2 separate regions of the Homo sapiens genome follow, and region 1 is linked to region 2. The links come from fine-mapping of genetic effects on gene expression. A gene starts in region 2. The other region holds a variant in brackets. All regions are shown on one strand. Distances are between the middles of the regions.

Region 1 (5,377 bases), 39 kb before region 2:
GTGGAGCTTGCACGTGGGCAGTGGCGTCCCAGACCTGCCCCTTTGCCCCACACATAACGCCCTTCCAGAAGGAAGGGAAGAGCTAGGAGGGGAGGGGCAGGGGCCTACAGGCCGCATTAAATGGTGGTTTTCTACCGTAAAATTCAGCCCAATTTGAATCCCAGCACTAGAGGGCCTATGGGGTGGAGCCCCGGGACCCCCAGCCCCGCCCTTCTCCAGGCCAGGTGTTACGGCGCAGATCCGCACGGTCTCCCTCCGCCTCCCGCCGCAAGTCCCCGCTGCTCACCGCCCTCGCGCAAGGCGCCCCAGCCCGTAATCCAGCAGTGCAGGCCGGGCTCGAAGAAGTGGGAGCGCGCGGGCAGGCAGACGGGGCGCACGGCGGCCGAGCGCACCACCGGGTGGTCGAGCTGCAGCAGCGCCACGTCGTAGTCATGGCTGTCCTCTTCGTGGTACGGGTGCAGGAGCAGGCGGCTCACCTTGAAGGACACCTCTCCAGGCCAGCGCGAGTTCTGCCACACCTTGCCCAGGAACACGGTCCACAGCACCGTGGAGGCCATGCTGGGGTGGGGTGGGGTGGGGTGGGGTGGGGTGAGGTGAGGTGGGAGGAAGCTGCCTCTCCCCATCCAGGGACCCTCAAGATAGCCAGATCCCCGCCCGGGACAGTGCCCTCCACACCCAGCCCTCCCTTCCCTCCCTGAAGGTCGCCTAGCTGGTGGTACAGCGTTCAGCCTTCACCCACTCGGCCTGCCTGGGTTCCACGCCCCAGCTTCATCCCTCCCTAGACATGGGTGTGCCTCTCTAAGCCTCTGCCACCTCATCTGCAAATGGGAATGGCATTTTCTACTCGAATGTTCTTGAGAGAATCCAATAAGACCGTGTATCTAAAAAATGTAGCACAGTGCCAGGCCCCCGACACAGATTTCTTTTTTCCTGTGTGCTTTACAGACCCAGGCTGCTCTGAATTCCCTGAGGCTGGTGGGTCCTAGTGGGGAGCGGGTGGGAGTTGAGCGTGGAGGAATTGGACTGCGGCAGTCAGCTGCCTGGGTGGCAGATGGGCAGCCTTCGGGTCTCTACCCTCTACCTGAGGGCAGTGGGGAGCCTGAGATGGGGTTAAAGAGAGCTAGGTGGTCAGAGCGCCCTGCGTCCCAGAGAGGATACAAAAGGGGATCCCTGTGCAGGGCCTGGGGGCGGGATCTGGAGCCCAGATCTGTCTGGGGGTGGATTGGGGGAGGTTTCAGCCCACCAAGCAGATGGGAAAGATGGCCATGAGGCCTGATGAGATGTCCCCTGGGGGCTCCCCAGCCCCACCTGCTACCTCGTGTCACACCTCGGGGAGTGTCATAGCTTATGACCAGGTTGGGCAGTTCTGTCCTTTACTGAATCCCCAGCATCTAGCACAGCCCTGGCACATAGTAGGAGCACAAGTGTTGCTGAATGAGTGAATGAGATGAATGAATGAATTACTGGCCCAACTTAAAGCAAGATACCAAAAGTAGATGGCAGAGAGGTGGAACAATGTGTCCGGGGACCCAGAAGGTCCTGGTGGAGCCAGGACTAGAACTCACATCACAGTAGCCTGTCTGGGGGGTCCACCACCCTTCCCTCTATCTGCAAAGAGCTCAGACACAGTGCACCTCCCACCGGGCCTTCCCTGCCCTTGTCTCTTACTGCCTAGGCCCCCACACCCTCCCGCTCACCTGTCCTCCTGGAAGCAGTGGGCAGCTGTTATCACCCAGCGGTCAGCGATGAGGGCCCCCCCACAGATGTGTCGACCCCGAACCTGGAGGCTGGCCTGCCATGGCCACTCACCCTCGGAGGACACAGCTCCACCAACAATGCGGCTGGAGGGGCCCTGGAGGCCACAGTCTGGGGATGGGGGCAGGTGGTGGGGTGGACAGAGGAGGAGGGGAAGGGGAGAAGCAGACAGAGAGGAAGGGCAAAGGAAAGAGATGGAGAGACAGAGAACAGGAGAATGATGGAGGGGGAGAGACCATCAGGACCCAGGCAAGGGGGCAGAGGATGAGATAGAGAGAGACCAGGGGACAACAGTGAGATTTCCCTCCAGCTTCCTGCTGTGGGCACCCCCTCCCTCCCAAGCTCCAGGGCCCCGGCAGCCAGGCAGGGCTCACCACAGTGCTCCTCATCCGAGCCGTCCCTGCAGTCGGGCCGCCCATCACACTGCGGGTTGGGCTTCTTCACGCAGCTCCGGTCCTCACACTGGAAGGTGAATGTCCCACATGGCACCCCTGGGACAGAGGGGATGGGGGCAGGGCACAGAAGGTGGGTCTCTGAGCCCCAAGGAAACCTTCCAAAGTGGGGTGCAGGAACGATGGAGCCAGAAGAGCCAGGAGGTGACTAGAGAGTCTTTTCCTGAGTCTCCTTTAGGGTCTCCTAAAAGCAGGCCATGTCCCCCCGCCCCCCACAGCCCCTCCACTCAGACTGGCCTATTGAGCACAAAGTGGTGTCTCCATTCTCAGACTGGAGATCCTGACCACAAGATCATGCCTCCCCCTCCAGTGTGGAACTTGAAGGCAGAACTGTGCCTCCACTTTTAGACCAGGGTCC[G/C]CACCTAGCCTGGCAATCTCCCAGGCTCTGGCCCTGCCCGGTTGTCCACATTTTCCTCCCTGCTCTTCACTGTAAAGAACTTTCCACTCCACCACTTGGTCTTTGCCTCTCTCCTTTCCTCCTGCCTATTTAAGTTTTAGCTCTCACCAAGGGCCAAACACCTACCTCCTCCAGGAAGCTTTTCATGTCTGACCTCCTCCCTGCCCTCCAATCTTCCTACAAGGCAGGAGAGTCACCCATCATATCCTCCTACTAACAGATGAGCCTTGGAAGGCAGGGCCTGCATCTCTGCTGTTTTATTCTCACTTCCTTACTGCACCTTGCCTATCGCTGGGTAGCCTGCAAGTGTTGGTCAGTTGGTCAGTTGGATGGGTAGATGGATGGATGGATAAATAGACCCAGACAGAAGACTGAGCAGACAAGCCAATGGGTGGAGTGGTGGTCCATTAGGGAGACTGACAGACAGCTAGAAGGTTGGATAAACGTGTGGATATAAGGACCAGTGGACAGACAGGGGGCTAGGGAGATCAGTGGATGGGTGGATGGATGGGTGGATGGATGGGTAGATGGATGGATGGATGATGGATGGGTGGATGATGGATGGATGATGGATGGATGATGGATGGATGGATGGATGGATGATGGATGGGTGCATGGATGGATGGATGGCTGACGGATGAATGGATGGATGGTGGATGGATGGATGATGGATGGTTGGATGGATGATGGATGGATGGATGATGGACAGATGATGGATGGACGGATGATGGATGGATGATGGATGGATGGATGATGGGTGAATGGATGGATGATGGATGAACGGATGATGGATGGATGGATGATGGATGAATGGATGGATGGATGATGGATGGATGGATGGATGATGGATGGATGGATGATGGATGGATGGATGATGGATGGTTGCATGGATGGATGGATGATGGATGGATGGATGATGGATGGATGGATGATGGATGAATGGATGGATGATGGATGGATGGATGGATGATGGATGGGTGCATGGATGGATGGATGATGGATCGATGGATGATGGATGGATGGATGATGGATTGATGGATTGATGGATGATGGATGGATGGATGATGGATGGATGGATGGATGGATGGATGGATGATGGATGATGGATGGATAGACGATGGACAGATGGATGATGGATGAATGGATGGATGATGGATGAATGGATGGATGATGGATGGATGGATGGATGATGGATGGATGGATGATGGATGGATGGATGGATGATGGACGATGGATGGATGGATGATGGACGGATGGATGATGGATGGATGGATGATGGATGGATGGATGATGGATGGATGGGTGATGGACGGATGGATGATGGATGGATGATGGATGGATGGATGATGGACGGATGGATGGATGGATAGATGGATGATGGATGGATGGATGATGGACGGATGGATGATGGATGGATGGATGGATGATGGATGGATGGATAGACGGATGATGGATGGATGGATGGATGATGGATGGATGATGCATGGATGATGGATGGATGAATGGATGGATGGATAGATGGATGATGTATGGATGGATGATGGACAGATGGATGATCGATGGGTGGATGACGGATGGGTGGAAGGATGATGGATGGATAGATGGATGATGGATGGATGATGGATGGATGGATGGATGATGGACGGATGGACGATGGGTGGATGGATGGATGATGGATGGATGGATGGATGGATAGACGGATGATGGATGGATGGATGATGGACGGATGGATGATGGATGGGTGGATGGGTGGGTGGGTAGATGGGTGGGTGGATGGATGGATGGATGGATGGATGGATGGAACAGTGGCCATATAGACCAGTAGTCAGCCAAACCAATAAATGGGTAGATTGACAGTTTGATGATAGGGAGATTGATGGTTGCACAGGTCAGTAGATGCATAGATAAATGGGTAGCTGTATGAATCAATGGACAGACGGTGATTGGAGACCAGAAGATGGATGGATGGATGGATGGATGGATGGATGGATGGATGGATGGATGAATGGACAGACATACAGATGTAAATACAGAGGGGTTGGTGGGTGTTGAGAGGAGAAGCTAGAAACTTTTGCTGAAGCATGTAGCAGGCCTAGACTGCCTTTGGTGTCCCTCCAGACACTCGGCTAGGCCTGCCCTACCTTCCTGGCACTGCTCTTCGTCGCTGCCGTTGAGACAATCAGGCTGCCCATCACAGACCTTGGGCAGTGAGATGCATGTGCTGTCCTCTTTGCACTGGAATGTGGCTCTGCAAACTGTGTGGGGACACAGAGAGGGGACAGGTGGGAGGAAGCCAGAGGAGCCAGCCGGGGCTTGGCGATGCCTGTAGAAGGTGTGCTGTATTGCACGTTACCAATCACAAATCTCTTTCTCTGCTACTTTATTTTTATGTCTCGCTCTTGTCACGAAGGCTGGAGTGCGATGGCATGATCTCACTGCAACCTCCCAGGTCCAAGCGATTCTCCTGCCTCAGACTCCCGAGTAGCTGAGATTAATTACAGGCTCCTGCTACCACGCCCAGCTAATTATTGTATTTTTAGTAGAGACGGGGTTTCACCATGTTGGCCAGGCTGATCTTGAACTCCTGACCTCAGGTGATCCGCTCGACTCCGCCTCCCAAAGTGCTAGGATTACAGGCATGAGCCACTGCGCCCGGCCTCTTTCTCTGCTATTTTACACCCAAAGTTTCACAGCAACCCTGTGAGATACCCCATTTCACTGGTGGAAACAGATGAGGTGACTTGTCCAAGGTCACTTGGCTGAGCCAGAACTT
Region 2 (5,377 bases):
TGTCTTTACTATCTTATAATACAACGGCTCCCCCATTCCCAGGGTCCAGCACCTTTGGAAAAGCCTGTGGCCCTACCTTCCAAATGCCCCCCAAAGCCAGCCCCTTCTTGGCCCCCCATGACTCCCACCATCATCCAGGCCACCGTCATCTGTCACCTCGACTCCTGCAATAGCCAATCACCCACCCCCCTACCCAGTGAGTTCTCACACAATGGCCACTGCGTGTTGTCACCATGTGCCCTGCCCACAAGCCTCGCACGGCTTCCATCCACCTAGAACACAGTCCCTAAAGACCCAGGGTCTCAGTTTTCCTGTCCTCTTTGCTGAATGGGAGGTTTGCTCCTTGCTGGGCCTGGGATGTTTTCCTTTCTGCTGGCCTCGTGGCTCCCTCCTTTACCTCCTCCAAAGGGTCAGATGTCACCTCTCCAGAGAGGCCTTCCCTGGGCACTCCCGTCTCTCCTGCATTTTTCTTTATAGCAATTACAGAGGCCTAAATTGCCTGATATGCAAATATGTCATTTATCTGCCTCCTCCCTGTCTGTAAGCTGCATGAGAGCAGAGTCTGGTACTCAGCGGACACTCAGTAATTGTTAAATGAATGAATGACAAGGTCCCAGCTCCTTCCTCCCTACAGAAGTCCAAGGTGCTGTGTGCATATGTGGCCTGGCCAACTTCTCCTGCCTCCTTTTTTCCCACCCTCTCTTTTCCCCGTCGCACCCCAAGGACACTGGACTTCCATTGGTGAGAAATTTTAACAATGGGATGGTAGCAAACATTTATGGATTAAGAGCAGCCAGCCGGCACCAAGAGCCCTCGTGGACCTTGAGCCCTGTCAGTGCTTGTTCACGGCCAGGCGTCCCCACACTCTTCCTTCTGCCTGGGCCCCCACCTCCCAACCTGGCCAGCTCTTATGCAGCCCCTGTCACCTCAGTTCAGACCTCACCTCTTCGCAGCTCTCCCAGAGTGCCCTAGAAGGGGCGGCTGCCCCTCGCGATGTGCAGCTTACCTGTGGGCACTCTCTCTTTGCCCCTCACATTGAACTCCTGGAAGCGGGGACTGTGCTCCAATTGCCACAGGGGCCTGAAGCAGTCCCCCAGCTCTGAGCACCATGGACCCCACCCTGGCACCTGCTCCTCACTCCCTCCTGCCCTTCTGGCCATTGGAGGGTCTCGGGTCTGCCTGCTGGAGGCTGAGCTCCTTGGGGCGGGGCCGCGACTCCCCCAGCAATGCAGATCCGGATTCAACCACTGCGTATGAACTCCTACCATGTGCCAGCCCTGTGCTGGGCAGTGCTGCAAACTCCACTGCAGCCTCCAACAGCCTGGGGTGCCTACTTTGCTGACTCTATTTAATGGCTGGGGAAACTGAGGTAGAGAGAGGTAACATGACTTACCCGAGGTCCCTCAGCCAGGGCAGAGCAGAGCAGAGCAGGGACTCTGGGCTAGGGCCATAGGGGCATCTTTCAGTGAAACCATTAGGCCCTAGAGTCCTGAGAGTGTGGGGGACTGGGTGGGGGTCCCTTCCACACATATAAACACACTCACAGACCCACAGATGTACACAGATGGAGACACGCGGAGGGATATACGCACATCTATTCATGACACAAAAATTCATAGATGCACGCCCTTCCTACACAGACACACACACGAACACACATACACATACATGCCAACTCTGAGCCTGTGAGCCCAGGGTCCTGGGCTTAAGTCAGTACATAGGTGCAATGTGGGGCTCCGGGCCTGTCTCCTACACCAGAAGGCCCAGGTGGGGTACCGGGTGTGGAGGGGGCAGCATGTCCAGTCCTGCGAGGCAGGGGTAGGGTGGCCTCTCCCTTCCTCCTGTCCCTGCCACCTGAATCCCAGGCCACCAACCACCCAGCACTGATGCTGTGCCTGTCCACACACCTGGTGTCACCCTGCGTGGTCCCTCCCCTCCCCAGCTCTGTGGGCCCCTCACCTTCTGCTCACTGATCACCCTCTGGCCGATGAGGCCCTGCAGGCCTGGCCTCGGAGCAGGGTAGGTGGCTCAGGCTGCAGGGAGCCAGGCCCAGCTCTTAGGGTGGACACTGTCACTAGGTCATTTATAGATCCCGGTCCCCTGTCCTGGAGGCCCCCGCTTACCTTTGGGAGCGGCAGATAGGTGCCGGGCCTGCACACAGGCCTCAGGAGCCTCTGTTTGTCCAGGCCAAGGCCTCCCCACCCCCACCCAGCCAGCCCAGGCTGGATCAATGGCCTAGAGCCATGACCAGGGTGTCTGGCCCTTGTCCCCTGTGGCCTGTGGCCTCAGGCTCCATGGAACTCCTCCTGCTGGGTCCTGGACAGCACTGTGACTAAGTACAGGTAAACAGGCAGGAGGTAGGAGAAGGCAGTGCCTGCCCCGCCCCATCTTCCCCCACCCCCGCATGGGCACCCCAGAGGCTGGCAGGCAGGTGCGGGAGATCTGAGCTCTCCCCCGAGGCCCGTTGCCTGGTGACATGCCTGCCTGGTTACAGCCCCTGGTCCCCGAGAGCATGAGGTAGGGACAGCCAAGGACTGGGGACTGTGCAGAGGCCGGTGCAGGTGAGTGCAGGGGCTCACAAGGGTGAGTCCAGGTGCTTACCTGGACAGGCGAGACTAAAGGAGCTGCTGGCCTGAGAGAGAGAAAAGGAGGCTGGGCCCATATACTCTGGGGACTGGAGAGGAGAAAGGGGAGGCAGGGGTGGGGTTTGATGCTATTTTCTGTTTAGCTGGGAATTATTTGAATTCCTACCTCGTTCTTTTTTTTTTTTTTTTTTTTTTTTAAGATGGAGTCTCACTCCGTCACCCAGGCTAGAGTGCAGTGGTGTGATTTCGGCTCACTGCAACCTCCGCCTCCCGGGTTCAAGCAATTCTCCTGCCTCAGCCTCCCAGGTAGCTGGGATTACAGCGCCCACCACCATGCCCGGCTAATTTTCATAATTTTAGAAGAGATGGGGTTTCACCATGTTAGCCAGGCTGGTCTCGAACTCCTGACCTCAAGTGATTCCACCCACCTCGACCTCCCAAAACGCTAGGATTACAGGCATGAGCGACCGCACGCAGCATGAATTCCTACCTGGTTCCGTAGCGCTGTGCTGTCCATGACGGTAGCCGCTGGTCACCCGTGGCTCTTGAGTCAGTCTGAACTGAGAAAAGCTGCACGGGGGAGACGCACACCAGGTTTCCAAGGCCAAGTGCAAACAGGATGTCAACCAACGCGATAACAATTTTTATATTGATTTTATGTTGAAATAACACTGGTGATCATGGGATAAATAAAATGTATTATTAAAAGCAATTTTCTTCTGGCTCTCTTGTTTTTTTTTTTTTCAGAGACAGGGTCTCATTAGGTTGCCAGGCTGGTCTGGAGCTCCTGGGCCCACATGATCCTCCTGCTTCAGCCTCCCAAGTAGCTGGGATTACAGGCGCGGGCCACCACACCCCTTGTTGCATGTGGATATTAGACAGGTTAAGTCACAAGTGTGACCTGCGTTGTTGTTCTATGGAACAGCGTTGCTGTGGAGATGGGTTTGAGCCATATGCGTGCCGAAGTGCCGGATGGGAGCCAGGGCTTTCTAGGGTGCGTGCAGGGCAGCGGGCGTCTGTCTCAGACAAGGCTGACTTTCAGCGAGTCTACATCCTGAGGCCAGAATGCGGGGTGCACGCCTGAGATGCTGTGTGCTGTGGGCATATGGGTCCCAGAGTGTGTGTGTAAGAGAGACAGTCTGGAATTTGTGTGTGTAGATTATGTATGTGTAGAATGTGCGTGTGTGTGTGTGTGTGTGTGTGTGGAGCGTAGGGATTGTGTGTGGGGTATAAGATTTGTGTGAGAGGTGTGTCTGTGAGGTTTGTATGGTGTGGGGTGGGGGGTGTGTGAAGTGTGTTGTGTGGGCATATGGACTGTGCATGTGTGTGCAGTGTGGGTGCTGGGAATGTGCAGTGTAAGGTGTGTGTGTCTTTGAGGTACGTATGGTGTGAGGTGTGTATGGAGCATGAGAGGTGTGTGCAGCTGTGTGTGTGTGTGTGTGCATGCTCACAGTATGTGTGGAATATGAGGCATGTGTTTAGTGTGAGGTGTGTGCATAGTGTGAGGTGTGTGTGTAGTGTAAGGTGTATGTAGTGTGAAGCATGTGTGGAGTGTGAAGCGTGTGTGTAGTGTGAGACGTGTGTGGAGTGTGAGGTGTGTGTGGAGCGTGAGGCATGTGTGGAGTGTGAGGCGTGTGAGTGGAGTGTGCAGCGGGTGTGAAGTGTGAGATGCTTATGGATTGGCTGGGATGGGACAGGGCCCCGCGCCCGGGCTTTGCCGTGACCGCCGGTTTTCAGCCCTACCTGGCTCCCTTTTAGTTGTAGGAACCTGGGCAGATTCCCTGACTTCTGAGCGGTGCTTCTTCCATCTGTCGAATGAAAAAAATTCGCCCCTTCTTGATGAACGGGAAACAACGTGTGCGAAGGCCCAGCACTGTGGGGGGCGCCGAGAGCGGGTTTCTCCTCTTCTCATGGTGACACGCTGGTGTGTCGGGGCCAGGTGTGCCTGTGCACTGAAGTCCAGGCAATGACAGGTGGCATGTGTGTGGTGCCTACCTGTGTGGCCCCTCACGCATGTCTCAAGCACGTAGATGCCCCATGCTCTCTGGCGTGTGCTCCCTAAGGGGGCCTGTAGCAGTAGGCAGGTACCTCCCTGACATGTGCGTGGGGGGCACCCCTGTGTCCTAAGGTGTGAAGGCCCCTGCCCATGGGGGCTGGGCATGAGCTCAGTACAGCACCATCTCCAGGCAGAGCCAGGGCTGGGCCAGGGCAGGAGGGCGCACTGTCAGGCTGGTTAGGATTCTGGGTTAGGGGGTACCTTCCCTCACCTTCTCCTGTGGCCCTCCCCAGAGTCCTGGCCCCTGCCCATGGGCCTGACCCTGACCCTGAGACCGAACACCATAGCCCTGCCCACTGTCCCTCGTCCCAGCCCCAACAACTCTGCCTCCTCCCCATAAACTCCCCTCTTCCCAGGCCCTGGGCCCCACCTTGCAAACTTCCTGAGGGACAGATGCTTGAGACAGAGCAGGGATAGTGTGTTTGTGTAGGGGGTGAAGACACCCCGATCCTAGCCTCTGTACCCCATCCTGTCCTTTGGAAGGTCAAAAGGCCCAGGCCCCCAGCCCAGGCTGCTAGCCCGACAGTCTGAAAAGCCGATCTTGCACAATCGACGTCCTCTAGACCTGGCGGCCACCTGGCCATCGATCCGACATGGCCTGGGGGGAGGGGCTGGCAATAAGCAAGCAGCAGCAAAATGCTGAGAGAGGTGTTTGAAAGCACAGACGTGGCTGGGTGCAGTGGCTTACCCCCACACCTGTAATCCCAGCACTTTGGGACGCCAAGGAGGGAGGATC

Which allele goes with the higher level. Alleles are on the strand shown, and positions count from the first base shown. SD is a standard deviation of normalised expression in the study named.
As copies of C replace G in region 1, the expression in nucleus accumbens of the gene that starts at base 2,334 in region 2 goes up (small effect, 0.36 SD a copy in GTEx).

The links. PIP is the estimated chance that this variant, and not a neighbour inherited with it, causes the effect.
Region 1: its variant is fine-mapped to the expression of TMPRSS6 in nucleus accumbens (GTEx, PIP 0.93).

What each region holds. Positions count from the first base shown.
Region 1 is chr22:37,068,787-37,074,163 of GRCh38, forward strand. TMPRSS6 (transmembrane serine protease 6) reads right to left here. Exons shown (of 18, transcript NM_001374504.1): 13 at 4,746-4,859; 14 at 2,130-2,246; 15 at 1,698-1,866; 16 at 287-558. Among named protein-coding and RNA genes, the nearest start is that of KCTD17, 20 kb to the left of the region's middle. The variant G/C (reference allele first, on the strand shown) is at 2,566.
Region 2 is chr22:37,107,380-37,112,756 of GRCh38, forward strand. TMPRSS6 (transmembrane serine protease 6) reads right to left here and starts at 2,334. Exons shown (of 18, transcript NM_001374504.1): 1 at 2,124-2,334. RefSeq lists an enhancer at 564-1,065.